2 separate regions of the Homo sapiens genome follow, and region 2 is linked to region 1. The links come from fine-mapping of genetic effects on gene expression. Tissue or cell type: whole blood. Region 1 holds a variant in brackets; the other region holds the start of a gene. All regions are shown on one strand. Distances are between the middles of the regions.

The links. PIP is the estimated chance that this variant, and not a neighbour inherited with it, causes the effect.
Region 2: it holds the start of CAPS, and the variant in region 1 is the best candidate, but not a certain one, in a credible set for the expression of CAPS in whole blood (INTERVAL, PIP 0.82).

The regions. Positions count from the first base shown.
Region 1 is chr19:5,885,284-5,895,975 of GRCh38, reverse strand. It overlaps NDUFA11 (NADH:ubiquinone oxidoreductase subunit A11), which reads left to right. Exons shown (of 4, transcript NM_175614.5): 4 at 1,122-1,301. The coding sequence ends at 1,234. Among named protein-coding and RNA genes, the nearest start is that of NDUFA11, 13 kb to the left of the region's middle. RefSeq lists silencers at 2,472-2,672, 3,239-3,298 and an enhancer at 2,914-3,720. The variant A/G (reference allele first, on the strand shown) is at 4,935.
Region 2 is chr19:5,911,691-5,916,690 of GRCh38, reverse strand. It overlaps CAPS (calcyphosine), which reads right to left and starts at 2,437. Exons shown (of 5, transcript NM_004058.5): 1 at 2,382-2,437; 2 at 2,202-2,306; 3 at 1,951-2,128; 4 at 1,545-1,751; 5 at 480-1,470. The coding sequence starts at 2,284. The coding sequence ends at 1,369. It overlaps RANBP3 (RAN binding protein 3), which reads left to right. Exons shown (of 17, transcript NM_007322.3): 17 at 1-552.

The sequences.
Region 1 (10,692 bases):
ATGGAGTCTCGCCCTGCCATCTCTCTCCCTGCACCTGGAGCCCTGCAGGGGAGCTGCCCCCGCAACCTTCACTTTACAGAAAAGGGTATTAGGGCTCAGGGAGGGAATTAAGTGGCCCGAGGTCACCTGGAGGAGCAAGTGGCCTTCTTTGCAGCCATCAGAGGGTGCAGCCCTGGTGGAGAAGGCCACGCTTGGCACAGGGGAGCCCGTCTGGAGCATGAGCCAGACATCACTCCTGCCCTCCCATGGGCCCGGGCTCAGCGTCAGTGCCCGCCTGTGCCCCTGGCCTACCCCCAGCCCGCCAAGGCTCGGGCCCTCAGGGCCAGCGGGAGGAGTGAACGAGCCCTCTTGCAGCTCAGCCGCTCTGGCCTGGCATGTTGGGAGTGATGAATGGCAGGTTCCAGGCAGGCAGAGAGGGAGGGTGCGAGGGCAGGGCGTACGCCGTCACTGCTGTCTCTGCGTCAAGACCTTGGGGAGGCCTTGTCCCTCCCCAGCTCCCACTGGAACTGGTCAGAGGTTGCAGGTGGGTTGAGGTCTTGACTGTAGCCCAGCTCAGGCTGGAACTGCTCCCTGTCCCCAAGCCAGCCTCCCTGTCTCTCTTCAAAGAGTGTGAGTCCCTTTAGGTCCTGGTGTGTGGGGACACACCTCCTTCCTCCTCTGGCCCGGAGGCTTCGGAGCAGGAGAGCCTGGAGAAGTGGGGGCACTGTCGGGGCTCCTCGGTACACAGACCACGGGACAGATGCGTGGCCTGGCCCTGGCATCCATGGGCAAAGGAGAGACTGAGACACACCGATGTGTCACCATGGCCCGGTGCCCAGCCTTGCCCCAGCCCCAGCTGGGGGCAGCACGGTGTCCTCGCAGGGGGAAGTCAGTGTGGGGCGGGATGAGGACCCACAGCCTGGGTTCCTGCTGGGAAGCAACCTGGACTCCGGCCTCCCTCTGTGCATCAGTTTCCACATCTCCAGAGTCTAGGGCCCTCTTCCTGAGTGACTTAATCCCTGAAGAGAGTGTCCTGTCAGGGGTCTCAGTCTGGCTCCCAGGGTGGGCACCGGCCAGGGCGTGGAGCGTCTTGGTCCGGCCGAGCCCCACCCGGGCCTGACATCACCTCCCCACTCCCACAGCGCACAACTACGGGATTGGCGCCGCCGCCTGCGTGTACTTTGGCATAGCGGCCTCCCTGGTCAAGATGGGCCGGCTGGAGGGCTGGGAGGTGTTTGCAAAACCCAAGGTGTGAGCCCTGTGCCTGCCGGGACCTCCAGCCTGCAGAATGCGTCCAGAAATAAATTCTGTGTCTGTGTGTGTGTCAGTGTCCGGAGGGCTTGATGACGGCGACACAGCAGCCGGTGAGGGCGGATCTGGGAGGGAGTGAGGAAGGGAGATAAGATAAGGCCCCCTGCACACGCGCCTGCCTGCCGCCTGCCGTCCCTGCCAAGGGTACCAGCCTGGCCCCACAGAACTGGTAGTGCATCAGGCTGGGGCCATCGGGAGCCCAGGAGGGGAGACGGCTGGGATGCGCCCCAGCCTCTGCTTCCCCCAGTTCCCAGGGCAGGGCAGGAGCGTGCCAGTGACCTGCCAGCAAGTGGAAAATGGGCCCTGCCGCCCACAGCCCTTCCCTCAGCGCTGTGGGCTCTGGTCACAACCCCCCTGCAGATCTTGAGCCATCCTTTCTCTGGGCCTGTCCCCAAAGCCAACAACATGTGGAAAACACGCCCAGGCCCTGTCTCCAAATTCCTGGGCACTGGAGCGGAGAGCCCCGGACAGGCTGGTCCAGCAGCCGTCCCCATCCGGCAGGTCACTCGCAGCCCCTGGGGCTAGGGCAGAGCGGGACAGGACCCCCCTCAGCACCTGGCTGGTGGCAGCGACAAGGGAAAGAATTGCGATCCCTTCCTGCCACCTGTCAGGCCAGTGATTTAGGTGGCCCTGGAATGCTGGCACCACCCCGGGCCCCTTCTCCAGAACTGGCTCATGCTCCCTGGCAGCTGGAGAGGAAGCCTGCAAGCTCCCACATGCTGCGGTGGGCTGCAAATTAGGGCGCTCCAGGCTCCACCCAGGGGAGCGGAGCTGTGCACAGCCCTGGCTGGGATGGATCTGGGCCCTGCTGGTGGGCCGGGGACAGCAGGAACCGGCAGGGCTGGCTATGGCCCTCCTGACCCGTATCCGGCCCCATCTCTTCCCTTTTCTCAAGCCCATCCGCGGGGCCTAGATGTGAAAAGCCAAACTTCACTTTCAGCCTCATATCCTTCTCTGTCCACCCCCGAGTAGTAACTCAGCCTGGAACTCCCGGGCCCAAGCAATCCTCCCACCTCAGCCTCCCGAGTAGCCAGGACTATGGCCACCGCCACTATGCCTGGTTAATTTTTTTAAAAAATGTTGTAGGCTGGGCCTGGTGGTTTGAGCCTGTAATCTCAGCACTTTTGGAGGTTGAGGTGGGAGGATTGCTTGAGGCCAGGAGCTTGGAACCAGCCTGGGCAACGCAGTGAGACCCTGTCTCTACCAAAAATTCGTCTTTTTGAGACATAGTCTTGCTCTGTCTCTCAAGCTGGAGGGCAGTGGCAGGATCATGGCTCACTGGAACCTTGACCTTCCTGGCTTATGCGACTCTCTCATCTCAGCCTCCCTGGTAGCTGGGACTGCAGGTGTGCACCACTACAGCCAGCTAATTGTTTTTATTTTTATTTTTTGTAGAGACAGGATCTCACTGTGTTGTGCAGGCTGGTCTCAAACTCCTGGCCTCGAGCAGTCCTCACACCTCAGCCTCCCAGAGTGCTGGGATTATAGGCATGAGCCACTGTGTACAGAGATTCTGGGTCCCTTCTTCCAGCGCCTGCCTCGAAGTCCTCTCTGGAGAGAGCACAGATGTCCACGCGTGTTCCAGCACAAGGGGGGCATGCAACAGCTCAGGGTCACGTCCACTTCCGGAGCTGGGTGCCCGGGCCTCGGGCTCCCTGAGAAAGGGCGGACACACCCACCCCGCACCCAGAGGGGCAGGGGCCCTGACACCTGTCCAAGCCCTAATAGAGTCATTGTTAAACACTCTGGGTTCGAACCCCAGAACTTGATTCTTTCCTTGTTCTGTCCTCAGAGGACGGCAGCACCCAGGCCTCAGCTTTCCCACCTGGTAAATGGGAATAAGGGCCCCTCAGAGATGCCCCACAAAGAAAGACGATTCCACCTCCCTGCAGGCATCCCATCCACTCACGGGCATCGCATCCACTCGAGGGCACCGGCCTCTGTCTCTACTGCGGCCGGCAGGGGGCAGCGCCCACCACAGCACGGCCTGCTGGGCAGTGTGGACCCGGGCGGTCATCCCCAGGCCCCCAGCCCCGCGGTGACCACAGGCGTCAGATTCCATCCCTTCCTCCGCACTCCAGGCCTTGTCTGTCCCTCATCCCCCTTCCTTCCCATGCATCCTGCCCACCGCAGCCGGGAAGTGATGGCTTCTAGGAATGGGCAATACAGCCCCAAACCTCCAGCCAAGGACACCGAAGGCTGGACAGGAGGAAAGACTAGTCCACGTCCCCACGACGGTCACCCTCAGCCCTGCACCATGGCCGCTTCTGGGACTGGTTCCACGCAGGCCTCCGCCCCCTGCAAGCCCTTCCCCGGCCCTCCAGGCCCGTGTGCGGCCCAAACCCTGTACCAGATCTCTTAGCCCTCTTCCACGGATGCGCGCGCTGAGGCCCACCCTGGGTAGTGGAGCTTGAAATTTAAAGGCCGCACGCCCCTTCGCACCTCCCAGCCCCAGGTGCCTCCCTGTGTTCAAGGGAGCCGACGGCTCAGACCAGGAGCTGTGCTCGCCGCCCACCCAGCCCATTCCGGGCTAGCCGCCAGGGTTGGCGCAGGCCTGCCAGGCGCCCCCACCTCGCCTGCAGGACGGGCCCCCCAGAATGGAACACGAGGGGGTGGTCTCTTGCTGGGCTCCAGGGAACCCCAAAGCCGAGGCCCCCCGGCCCATAAACATTTACTAGGTTGTGGAGGGCTGACGTCACTCCCACCCCACACACAAGAGGGCCCCCGTCTGGAACATCGGTCCCAGCAGGCTCCCTGAGGGGCTGTGGGGGACCCTTCCTGAGTTTACCTTGAACTTCATGGAGCCCTTCCCAGCCCCAGGCAGTCAGGGCTGGAACTGAGGAGGGGCAGAGCCTCCCTGGGGAGCTAGGAGGGCTTCCTAGAGGAGGAGGCGGCACAGCAGAGAGGGCCCAAGGATGAAGAGGCTTTTCCATGTGTACCCAGCGGGAGGCTGGTCCAGGCAGAGCACACAGCAACAGCAGAGGCCTGCTGTGAGGGAGAGCAGTGGGCGATCAGGGGCCTCCTGGTCCAGGAGAGGTGCCTGGGGGCTGCAGGGCACACACTTGCTTCCCGAGAATCCATCCCTGGAGACACATCCCCAGCAGAGACAAGGCTCCAAGAACACCGGCCTGGCCCTGCGCCGTGGCTCAGGCCTGTAATCCCAGTACTTTGGGAGGCCGAGGCTGGGGGATCACTTGAGGTCAGGAGTTTCAGACCACCCTGGCCAACACAGTGAAACCCTGTCTCTACTATACAAAAATAAGCCAGGTGTGGTGGCAGGCACCTGTAATCCCAGCTACTTGGGAGGCTGAGGCATGAGAATCCCTTGAACCTGGGAGGTGGAGGTTGCAGTGAGCCGAGATCATGTCACTGTACTCCAGCCTGGGAGACAGTGAGCGAGACTTTGTATCAAAAATAAATAAATAAATAACGCTGGCCTGGGCTGGCGCTGACCCAGGCCCCGCCGCCGGGGGTCTCTAAGCTCTTGGGTGAGCCAAGAAAACATTCACAAGACAAAAAAAAGGGGGGTGGGGGTGGGGAACATCAAGCTTTTCCCACCTGCCAGGCAGGTGCAGTTGTTATTATTATTTTTGGCTCATTTTAGTCTGCGCAGCCGTGCGTGAGCTCTGTTAGGCATTAGTCCT[A/G]TTTTACAGATGAGGAAACTGAGGCCCGGGAGGTGACTTCCCAGGGCCTGGCAGTAGCTAAAAGAAGTGTTACTTCTCCTAAGAATAGCTATTGTTTGGAAAATGGCAATTTGTTCCTTTAAGACTTTCTTAGTGGTCTTGGAGATTGGAGCGAAAACACCCCACTAAGGGCTGGGCGCGGTGGCTCACGCCTGTAATCCCAGCACTTTGGGAGGCCGAGGCGGGCGGATCACAAGGTCAGGAGATTGAGACCATCCTGACTAACACGGTGAAACCCTGTCTCTACTAAGAATACAAAAACAGTCTGGCATGGTGGCGGGCGTCTGTAGTCCCAGCTACTCGGGAGGCTGAGGCACGAGAATGGCGTGAACCCGGGAGGCGGAGCTTGCAGTGAGCCAAGATCACGCCACTGCACTCCAGCTTGGGCGACAGAGTGAGACTCCGTCTCAAAAAAAAAAAAAAAGAAAATACCTCACTGAGAAAGGAAGGTGTTTTCGCTGCCAACTTGAGCACAACTGTACTCCTTTAAACTTGTGTTGAGTGTGGGCTGTGGGCTCCTATAAATGTGTTTGACATGATTGGGGTGGGACACAGCTGAGAAGACCCCACGGGGCTGATGTGTGCCCCTCCTGGGACTGAAGAGCTGCTCCCGCCCTCCCCGCATCTCGAGCCCCTTTGCCTTCAGAATCTGTCCCAGATCTGCCTCTAGTCTGATTCCATCATCACGACAAGCGTAGTCCCCTCTGCCCTGGTCACCCGGCTACCCCCTGAGCCAGAAGGCGCCTGTGAGCCCCTAAGTCAGGTCCCGCCCCTCCCCTGCCCACAGTCCTCCATGGCTCCCACCCCACTTGGGGGAAAAGCCCAAATCCTCTCTACAGCCCACTATGCCCTGTGTGTCCCGACCCCTCCTCTCCCTCCCCTCCCTCTCCTCCCCTCCCCTCTTCACTGCTCCAGCCCCACCAGCCTCCTCACTCTTCCTCCAAAACCCCTGGCACAGTCCTGCCCTAGGGCCTTTGCATAGTCCATACCCTCTGCCTGCAATGCCTGTCCCCTAGATGTCCCCAAGCTCACCCCTCACCTCCTTCAATTCTCAGCTCACAAGCCACCTCCTCATCCCCCGTCCCCAGGCCACCAGCACTCCACACTCATTTGCCTTCTAGTTTTGCCCGTAGCCCCTGCCAGTTTCTAAGTCCCACGTCACCATCACGTGTGTTATTTATGTGCACCTCCTTGAGGACTGGGACGTATCCTGGCTGTTATATCCTCTGCCTACACCCCGGCACCCAGCCGAGGAACGCAGCAGGGCTCCAGAACTATGTGTGGAATGAATGAATGGATAAACAAATGAATGAATCTCCAGGTCTGCAAAGGGTAGGAGGTCCAGAGGTGGGGCCTGAGAACCACTTGGGGGTGGCTGTGCACCCTGCCTGGCCCTGCTTTGCTGCCTGGGTGGTATAGGCTCTCGGAGGGGGATCAGGGTCCTTCTCACTCTCCCCACATGAGATGATGGCTGCAGTGGAGTGCGGGAAGGCACGGGAAGAGAAGCCCTCCAGACCCGGGGGCAAGACTCAGAGTTCATTCAGCAAACAGTCATGTGCAGTATAACAGCATTTCGGTCACTGACGGACCACATATGTGAAGGGAGTCCCATGAGACTTTTTTTTTTTTTTTTTTTTTGACACTGAGTCTCTGCCGCCTAGGGGTTCAAGCGATTCTCCAGCCTCAGCCTCCCGAGTATCTGGGATTACAGGTGCCCACCACCACACTCAGTTAATTTGTTGTTTTTTGTTTTTGTTTTTGTTTCTTTTTTTTTCTTTTCTTTTTTTTTGTTTAGTTTGGTTTTTTGAGACAGAGTCTTGCTCTCTCACATTGTCACCCAGGCTGGAGTGCAGTGGCTCACTGCAAGCTCCGCCTCCCAGGTTGACGCCATTCTCCTGCCTCAGCCTCCTGAGTAGCTGGGACTACAGGCGCCCACTGCCACGCCCGGCTAATTTTTTTGTATTTTTAGTAGAGACCGGGTTTCACCGTGTTAGCCAGGATGGTCTCAATCTCCTGACCTCGTGATCCGCCCGCCTCGGCCTCCCAAAGTGCTGGGATTACAGGCATGAGCCACTGCGCCCGGCCTGTTTTTGTTTTTTTTTTCTGAGATGGAGTTTCACTCTGTCACTCAGGTTGGAGTGCAGTGGGGAGATCTCGGCTCACTGCAACCTCCACCTCCTGGGTTCAAGCAATTCTCTGCCTCAGCCTCCCGAGTAGCTGGGATTACAGGCTCCCGCCACCACATCCGCCTAATTCTTTTGTATTTGTAGTAGAGATGGGGTTTCATCAAGTTGGCCAGGCTGGTCTCAAACTCCTGACCTTAAGTGATCTGCCCGCCTCGGCCTCCCAAAGTGCTGGGAATACAAGTGTGAGCCACCGCACCCGGCTCCCATAAGATTTTATACCATATTTTTATTGTACCTTTTCTGTTTGTGGATGTTTAGAGACAAATATTTGTCATCATGTTACAGTTGCCCACAGTATTCTGTACAGTCACATGCTCTGCAGGTTTATAGCCTGGGAGCAGTAGACAGTACCATGAAGCCTGGTGTGCAGTACGTTCTACCATCTAGGCGTGTGTACGCTGGGATGTTTGTGCATGACAAAATCATCTAATGACGAATTTCTCCAAACATACACCCATCATGAAGCAACTACTGTGTGTGTGTGTGTGTATTTTTTTTTTTTTTTTTTAAGAAAGGGTCTTGGCCGGGCGTGGTGGCTCACGCCTGTAATCCCAGTACTTTGGGAGGCCGAGGTGGGCGGATCACGAGGTCAGGAGATCGAGACCATCCTGGCTAGCATGGAGAAAAACCCTGTCTCTACTAAAAAATACAAAAAAAATTCAGCGGGGTGTGGTGGCGGGCGCCTGTAGTTCCAGCTGCTCGGGAGGCTGAGGCGAGAGAATGGCGTGAACCTGGGAGGCGGAGCTTGCAGTGAGCCGAGATCGCGCCACTGCGCTCCAGCCTGGGCCACAGAGTGAGACTCCATCTCAAAAAAAAAAGAGAAAGAAAAAGAAAGACAGGGTCTTAGCCAGGCGCAGTGGCTGACACCTGTAATCTCAGCACTTTGGGAGGCTGAGATTGGCAGATCACTTGAGGCCAGGAGTTCGAGACCAGCCTGGCCAACATGGCAAAACCCGGTCTCTACTAAAAATGCAAAAATTAGGCGTGGTGGCAGGTGCCTGTAATCCCAGCTACTTGGGAGGCTGAGACATGAGAATCGCTTGAACCTGAGAGGCGGAGGTTGCAGTGAGCCGAGATTGCGTCACTGCACTCCAGCCTGAGTGATAGAGCAAGACTCCATCTCCAAAAAAAAATAAACAAAATAAATAAATAAATAAATGAAAATCAGCTAGGCATCGTGGTGTGAGCCTGTAATACCAGCTACTCAGGAGACTAAGGCAGGAGAAACACTTGAACCCAGGAGGTGGAGGTTGCAGTGAGCTGAGATCGAGCCACTGCACTCCAGCCTGAGTGACAAGAGCAAAACTCCATCTCAAAAAATAAGAAGAAGACAAGGTCTTGCCCTGTTGCCCAGATTGGAGTGCAGTGGTGAGATCATAGCTTACTGCAACCTCAAACTCCTGGGCTCAAACGATTCTTCTGCCTCAGCTTCCAAGAAGCTGGGACTACAGGCATGCACCAACACACCTGGCTAATTTCTAAATTTTTTGTAGAGATGGAGTCTCACTGTGTTGTCCAGGCTGGTCTTGAACTCCCGGCCTCAAGTGACCCTCCTGCTTCAGCCTCCCAAAGTGCTGGGATTACAGGCGGGAGTCACTGTGGCCAGCTGCAGATCTTGCTTAAACCATAGACAGGCACTTCTGGGCCAAACATTTCCCTTGTCCTGACAAAGACCCCTGGGACCAACACTGGCCCACTAGGGTACCCCCAAAAGAGCCAAAAAGGGGGCTGGAGCCAGGCATGGTGGTACACACCTGTAGTCCCAGCTACTTAGGAGGCTAAGGTAGGAGAATCGCTTGAGCCCAGGAGTTCGAGGCTGCAGTAAGCTATGATCCTGCCACCGCACTCCAGCCTGGGTGACAGAGCGAGACCCTGTCTCTAAAAAAAGAGAGGCCCAGAGCCCTGAATGCCTTGGGGGTGCCACATCCCTGTACCCACAGGGTCCCCAGCAGAGCACAGAGGGAGGAAGAGGGAGTAGACAGGGGTAGAGATCTTAGGAAAGAGGACGTGACTCTCTCCTGGCTGTGTTCTGGTAGGAGGCCCCAGCCTTAAAGCCTAAAGCCGGGTTAGTCATTACTTCAGGGCTCCAGAAGTCAGGGCGGGACTTGCCCCCCCTTATCCTATCTGGCTTGGCGTCCAAGGCTAGGACCCAGTGGAGCCATAGTTCCCTGGTCCCACATCATCTCAGGCATCCCCTGTGTCCACAAGGGCCACACAGCCAGCGAGCCATTTGGCCTATGGGGAAACTGAGGCATAGGGAAGCTCGGGCCTTCCTCCCTGTGTATCTCTTTTCTAGCCAGCCTCCCTCCACTTGCTGTGGTCCTCCTCAGAGCGTGGGCGCTCAGAGGGGCCTGGTTTGGCCCCCAGCCCCACCATTGGCGCACACAGGTCCTTCCTCTGAGCCAGCCAAGCCTCCCCTCGGGCTTCCTGGAAAGCTGGGTGGTCGGGCCGAGCTGCAAGGGGCTCCGGCAGGCCTGGCCCTGTCCCTGGCCCCAGCCCAGCCCACATCTCACCTTCCAGGGGTCCCCACTGGTCTGAACCCTCGCTGAACCAGAGTAGGAAAGGTGTGAGCCAGGACAAGAGCAGGGCTCTGGGGGGCCTCGTTGGGGGGCCTGGTGGGGGATTCAGCCCAAACTGAGGGGCAGCAGGCAGAGCGATGGCCTGGCCTGAAATCTAGAGCCACCACCCCTGCCACCCCAGCCTTTTCAAACCCATCCAAAGTCTTCTATTTTGTCCATTTTTTTTTTCTCAGCACTTTTTTTTTTTTGAGACGGAGTCTCGCTCTGTCGCCCAGGCTGGAGTGCAGTGGCGCCATCTCGGCTCACTGCAAGCTTTGCCTCCCGGGTTCACGCCATTCTCCTGCTTCAGCCTCCCGAGTAGGTGGGACTACAGGCGCCCGCACCAAGCCCGGCCAATTTTTTTGTATTTTTAGTAGAGACGGGGTTTCACTGTGTTAGCCAGGATGGTCTTGATCTCCTGACCTCATGATCCTCCGGCCTCGGCCTCCCAAAGTGCTGGGATTACAGGCATGAGCCACCGCGCCCGGCCTTTCTCAGTATGCTTTCTAAAATGCATTTTACAGTTTATCCTCCTTCTTTTAGAGGTAAGACAGACGCATGCCATAGAATTCAAAAGATTCTAGAGGGTGTTTAGAATAAATACCAGCCACTCCCCAAGCCCCACGCCATCCCCAGAGGCCATTAGTCGGTTTCTTGTTTCTCCTTCCAGCCATGTTCCACGCCAAAACAAGCATGTCTGTATATTTTCTTTTCCCCACGGAAACAACATCACACTCCCCGTACTTTCTTGCAGCTCAGCGTAGTTGACTCCTAACAATGCATCTCGGATCTTTTCTTCGAGTGCAGAACTTCCCCCTCTTTTGTAAGGACAGTGTAATATTCCATCTTGAGGCTGGACCATTGTTCTGGTGAAAGCACATGTCCTGGCCTCCAGTCTTCTGCTACTATACACCGGGCAGCAATGAAGAAATTTTTTTTTTTTTTTTTGAGACGGAGTCTCACTCTGTCACCCAG
Region 2 (5,000 bases), 24 kb before region 1:
GGCCATCCCTTCCCCAGCCACAGGTGTCCCTGCCCCCAGGACAGTCCAGGGCCAGGGGCTTCTGTGAGAGGCAGAGGGGGACCCTCACCAAATCTTGGTGGAAGAGCCCAGGGGCTGGTCCCAGAACAGGCAGTCTCACAAGCACGCAGCACACTGGAGTGGACGCCTGTGCCCACCCGAGCCTGGAGCATGGCCAAGAGCCAGCTTGCACCACCCACCTGGGAGGCCGAGGAGGAGGTCCCCTGGGCACAGGGCCTCTTTGGGACTTCAGAGGAAATCTCCCAGTCCCACTCTCGGAGGGTTAAGAGAAGGCCTCCTGCAGCTGTGCCGTCCACACCTCTAGGTCGCCAGAGCCCTGGCCCCCAGCCCCCAGCAAGCCTGAGCCCGGGAAGAACCAGAGGCCCTCCCGAGAGACCCAGTCACACGTCTCTGCTTTAAGCCTTAGCCAGCTAGTGACGAGTACAACGAGATAACGCCCATGTGTTTTGGAACATTTATGTAAGATTGTCATATGAAATGTATTTGGGAACTACATTAAACTTTTAACTAAAACCCTGGCCTCTGCATGCCCCAGGGGCCTCAGGAAGCCCCTGACCAGGAACGGCCTCCACCTCCCCGGGCGAGGACCTCCAGCAGCCTGGGGCCTCATGCTCCCACCCAGCGTGTCACCAGTGCTGGGGTCCAGCCACAGCCCTGTTCTCTCCACCACCACCCGCACTTTACCCCCACCCCTGCTGCAAGGCCCCGCCGGTCTGCCCCCGCCCAGAGCTCCCAGCCTCGGGCCGCTCACCAGAATGTAGATACTGGGCCCGCTGGACATGTTACCTGCTATTTTTATTCCCCATTTGCCATCTTCTGATTGGGGGTTGATGTTTTACAGATTTTTTTTTCAAAGGCTTTATTTCAGTTTCTGAGGTTAGGATGCCCCTGTGCCCCTCGCTCCACACCTGGGCAGGTCTAAACTTCCTTCCAGGATGGCCTCCACACACAGCCTCCCACCTGGGGTCACCTGGCTTCCTGGGGGACCCGCAAGGGAGGGGCAGGGAGCAGCAGTCCGGGTGCGGGGATCGGGGGACCTCGGCGGGGGCATCCACAGGGGCTGCAAGATCTCTGGTCAGCATGGCGTGGGTGGGGAGAGCGTTTCTCCCTGGGGTCCTGAGCCAGTGACTCCTGTTAGGACCTTTGTCCCACCTCCGCCTGGTGGACCGGCAGGGACCTGGTCTAGCCAGTCCTGCAGCCTCCATTCCCCCACCTGCCCCTCCCCGCTCTGTGGTGTGGCTGCCCAGGAGAGAAGGGGCCCAGGGAAGGGAGGTCTCCGGCAGGGGTGGGGAGTGACAGGCCAGGGCAGCAGGGCTGAGCCGGAGCTGCTCACAGCTGCCAGGCACTGGTCATCATGGCCACGAACTCCTCATCCGTGTTCATGGAGGCACTCACGCCGCTGTAGTAGTCCTGGAATTCCGCCAGTGTGACCTGGGAACAGAGGGCCGTGAGGGGGCACGGCCGAGGAACTGCCTGGGGAGGGGGCCCCCCGCGCAGCCACCCACCTGCCCGTCCTTCTCAGAGGAGTCGAAGTTGTCCAGGAAGCGGCGCAGCACCTCGTCCTCGGTCCACTCCCCACTGCGCACCTTGGGGTGGGCACGGCCACTGTACACCCCGCGGAGGTCGTCCACCGTCACGACGCCGTCCCCACTGCGGTCCAGCTTGGCAAATGCAGCTGCGATGACAGCCTCCCGGGCCTGGGACATGGGGGGCTGGGACAGGAGGTGGTGACTGGGGGTGGTGGGTAGCACACCCAAACCCCCAAGACGCTGTGCAGAGCACTGGGGCTGTATGCCCCAGCAGGCGCCTCTTAACAGCAGCTCTTAGGGAGGAGTCCCCGTCTCCGCATCTCAGCATCCTCTGTCGCCCCATGCCCAGGGCACACGCCTTGACTGTGAGGTGGGGGCTCACCCGCAGCGCCCGAAGGAACTCCTCCAGATCCAGCGTCCCGCTGCCATTGCGGTCCCACTTCCTGCACACACCCTCTGCCTCCGCCTGGTCCAGCACCAGCCCGAGTTTGGCCAGACCCTGCCGGAACTCATCAGCGTCCAGGGATCTGCTCCCGTCCCGGTCTAGTTGGCGGAAAAACCTGGAGGCAGGGGACACGGTTGGAACAGTGGTCTCAGGGGCCGGGGTCAGGAAGGTGAGAGGGGACAGCTCACCTGGCCAGGCCCTGGATGCCCGAGGCCCCGCGGGACAGGCACTGTGCCCGGAGTTTCTCCATGGTGGCATCCACGGCGTCCATGCTTGGTCTGGGCTCTGGGCAGCTGGAAGGGAGAGAGGTCAAGGTGGGGACTCCCGCAAGCCCACCCTGGCCGACTGCCCCTTGTTCAGATGCTCACCTGGCCTGCGTCTGTCCCAGAGTCCTGCCTGCGGGGCCTTGTGTTAGCTGTGTTGTGCCTGGGGAGACTGTTGCTAGTGGAAGGTGCCTCTGGAGATGGGGTGGGGCCCAGCTGCATGAATGCACTGTGCTGGGCAGTGGGGAGTGGGGGAGGGATGGGTGCGCCCAGCCTGACTGCTTACTCAACTGCCAGCCCCACAGGGCCTGGGACAGAGCCAGATCCCTGTGGCACTGCATCCCTTCCTGGCTCCAAGGAGGAGGGGCAGGCCACTGCCCTGCAGGGGCTGAAATGCCCTGGATGGAGACAAGTCCGTGGCTGGGGAGGCTTGACGCATGATTCCTGTGTGACCCTGGACAGGTCCCTTTCCCTCTCTGGCTTCACAGGGGCTTCTCAGCCCGAGCCAGGGCTGACAAAATTGCTGAGGAATCAAAGTTCAAAAGGGCCCCAGGTTCTGACCGGCCACTGCGGCTCATGCCTGAAATCCCAGCACTTTGGGAGGTCTAGGTGGGAGGATCACTTGAGCCCAGGAGTTTGGACCAGCCTGGGGAACATATAGAGAACTTGTTTCTATTGTACAGCAACAAAAATGCCCCAGGTGGGCTGGGCGCGGTGGCTCATGCCTGTAATCCCAGCACTTTGGGAGGCCGAGGTGGGCAGATCACAAGGTGAGGAGTTTGAGACCAGCCTGACCAACATGGTGAAACCCCGCCTCTACTAAAAATACAAAAATTAGCCGTGCATGATGGTGGGCGCCTGTAATCCGAGCTACTTAGGAAGCTGAGGCAGGAGAATCGCTTGAACCCAGGAGGTGGAGCTTGCAGTGAGCCAAGATTGCACCACTGCACTCCAGTCTGGGCGACAGAGCAAGACTCCATCTCAAAAAGAAAAAAAAAAAAAAAGCCCCAGGTGGCCCAGGTCCTGGGGCCCTAAGACCTCCCACCCAGGCCCACCTCCAAGGGCAGGTCCTGCAACCCACAGAGACTGAGCTGAGCCTGAGGGACACCTCTGCTCACTGCCACAAAGCTTGTCACTGGCCGTTGTTAGGAGCCAGTCCCAGGATTTCTGTCTTTACGGATCTTTTGTTGTTGGTTTTCAGGCCTGAAACGTGACTTAGTGGGCTGGCTCCTGACAAGGTGGTGAGCCAGAGGTTGTGACCCCGAGTGGAAGAGCAGCCCTGATCCTGGACATAAACCTCAAGAGACGAAGCCACCTCACTGAAGGCCTTCAACGGAGACATCGGATATACCTGCCCGCTAAGATAGGTGGGTTTTCCAGGACTTGAAACGTGGGCCCTGTTTGAGGACCCACTGTTCGCCCCGACCCAAGGATCATCAATCGGAGCCTTCTCCAAGCCTGGCTTTACCTCGCTCACAGCACAATTATATTGTCAGAAGTTGCCTTGCCTGAGCGCGGTGGCTCATGCCTGTAATCCCAACACTTTGGGAAGCCAGGGCAGGAAGATCACTTGAGCCCAGGAGTTTGAGACCCGCCTGTGCAACATAGTGAGACCCCCCCATCTCTACAAAAACTACAAAAAATTAGCCAGGCATGGTGGTGTGTTCCTGTAATCCCACCTACTTGGAAGGCTGAGGCAGGAGGATCACTTGAGCCCGGGAGTTGGAGGCTGCAGTGAGCTATGATCGCACCACTGCACTCCAGCCTGGGTTACAGAGCAAGACGCCCGCCTCTTAAAAATAAGTAAATAAACTGGCCGGGCACGGTGGCTCACGCCTGTAATCCCAGCACTTTGGGAGGCCGAGGCGGGCAGATCATGAGGTCAGCAGTTCGAGACCAGCCTGGCCAACATGGTGAAACCCTGTCTCTACTATAAATACAAAAATTAGTCAGCCGGGTGCGGTGGCTCATGCCTGTAATCACAGCACTTTGGGAGGCCGAGGCAGACAGATCACCTGAGGTCAGGAGTTTGAGACCAGCCTGGCCAACATGGTGAAACCCTGTCTCTACTTAAAATACGAAAAACTAGCTGGGCGTGGTGGTATGTGCCTGTAATCCCAGCTACTCGGGAGGCTGAGGCAGGAGAATTGCATGAACCTGGGAAGCGGAGGTTGCAGTGAGCCGAGATCGTGCCATTGCACTCCAGACTGGGGGACAAGAGCAAGACTTTGTCTCAAAAAAAAAAAAAGAAAATTAGCCAGGTATGGTGGCGGGTGCCTGTAATCCCACCTACTCCAGAGGCTGAGGCAGGAGAATCACTTGAACCCAGGAGGCAGAGGTTGCAGTGAACCAAGACCATGCCACTGCACCACAGCCTGGGCGACAGAGTGAGACTCTGTCTCAAAAATAAATAAATAACTTAAAAAAAGAGGCCAGGGCTGGGCGCGGTGGCTCACAGCTGTAATCCCAGCACTTTGGGAGGCTGAGGTGGGCGGATCACTTGAGGTCAGGAGTTCAAGACCAGCCTGGCCAACATTTTGAAACCCCATCTCTACTAAAAAAAATAAATAGCTGGGCATGGTGGTGCATGCCTGTAATCCCAGCTACTCAGGAGGCCAAGGCAGGAGAATCACTTGAACCCTGGAGGCAGAGGTTGCAGTGAGCCTAGATCACACCACTGTACTTCAGCCTGGGTGGCAGGGTGGCAGAGCCAGACTCCGTCTC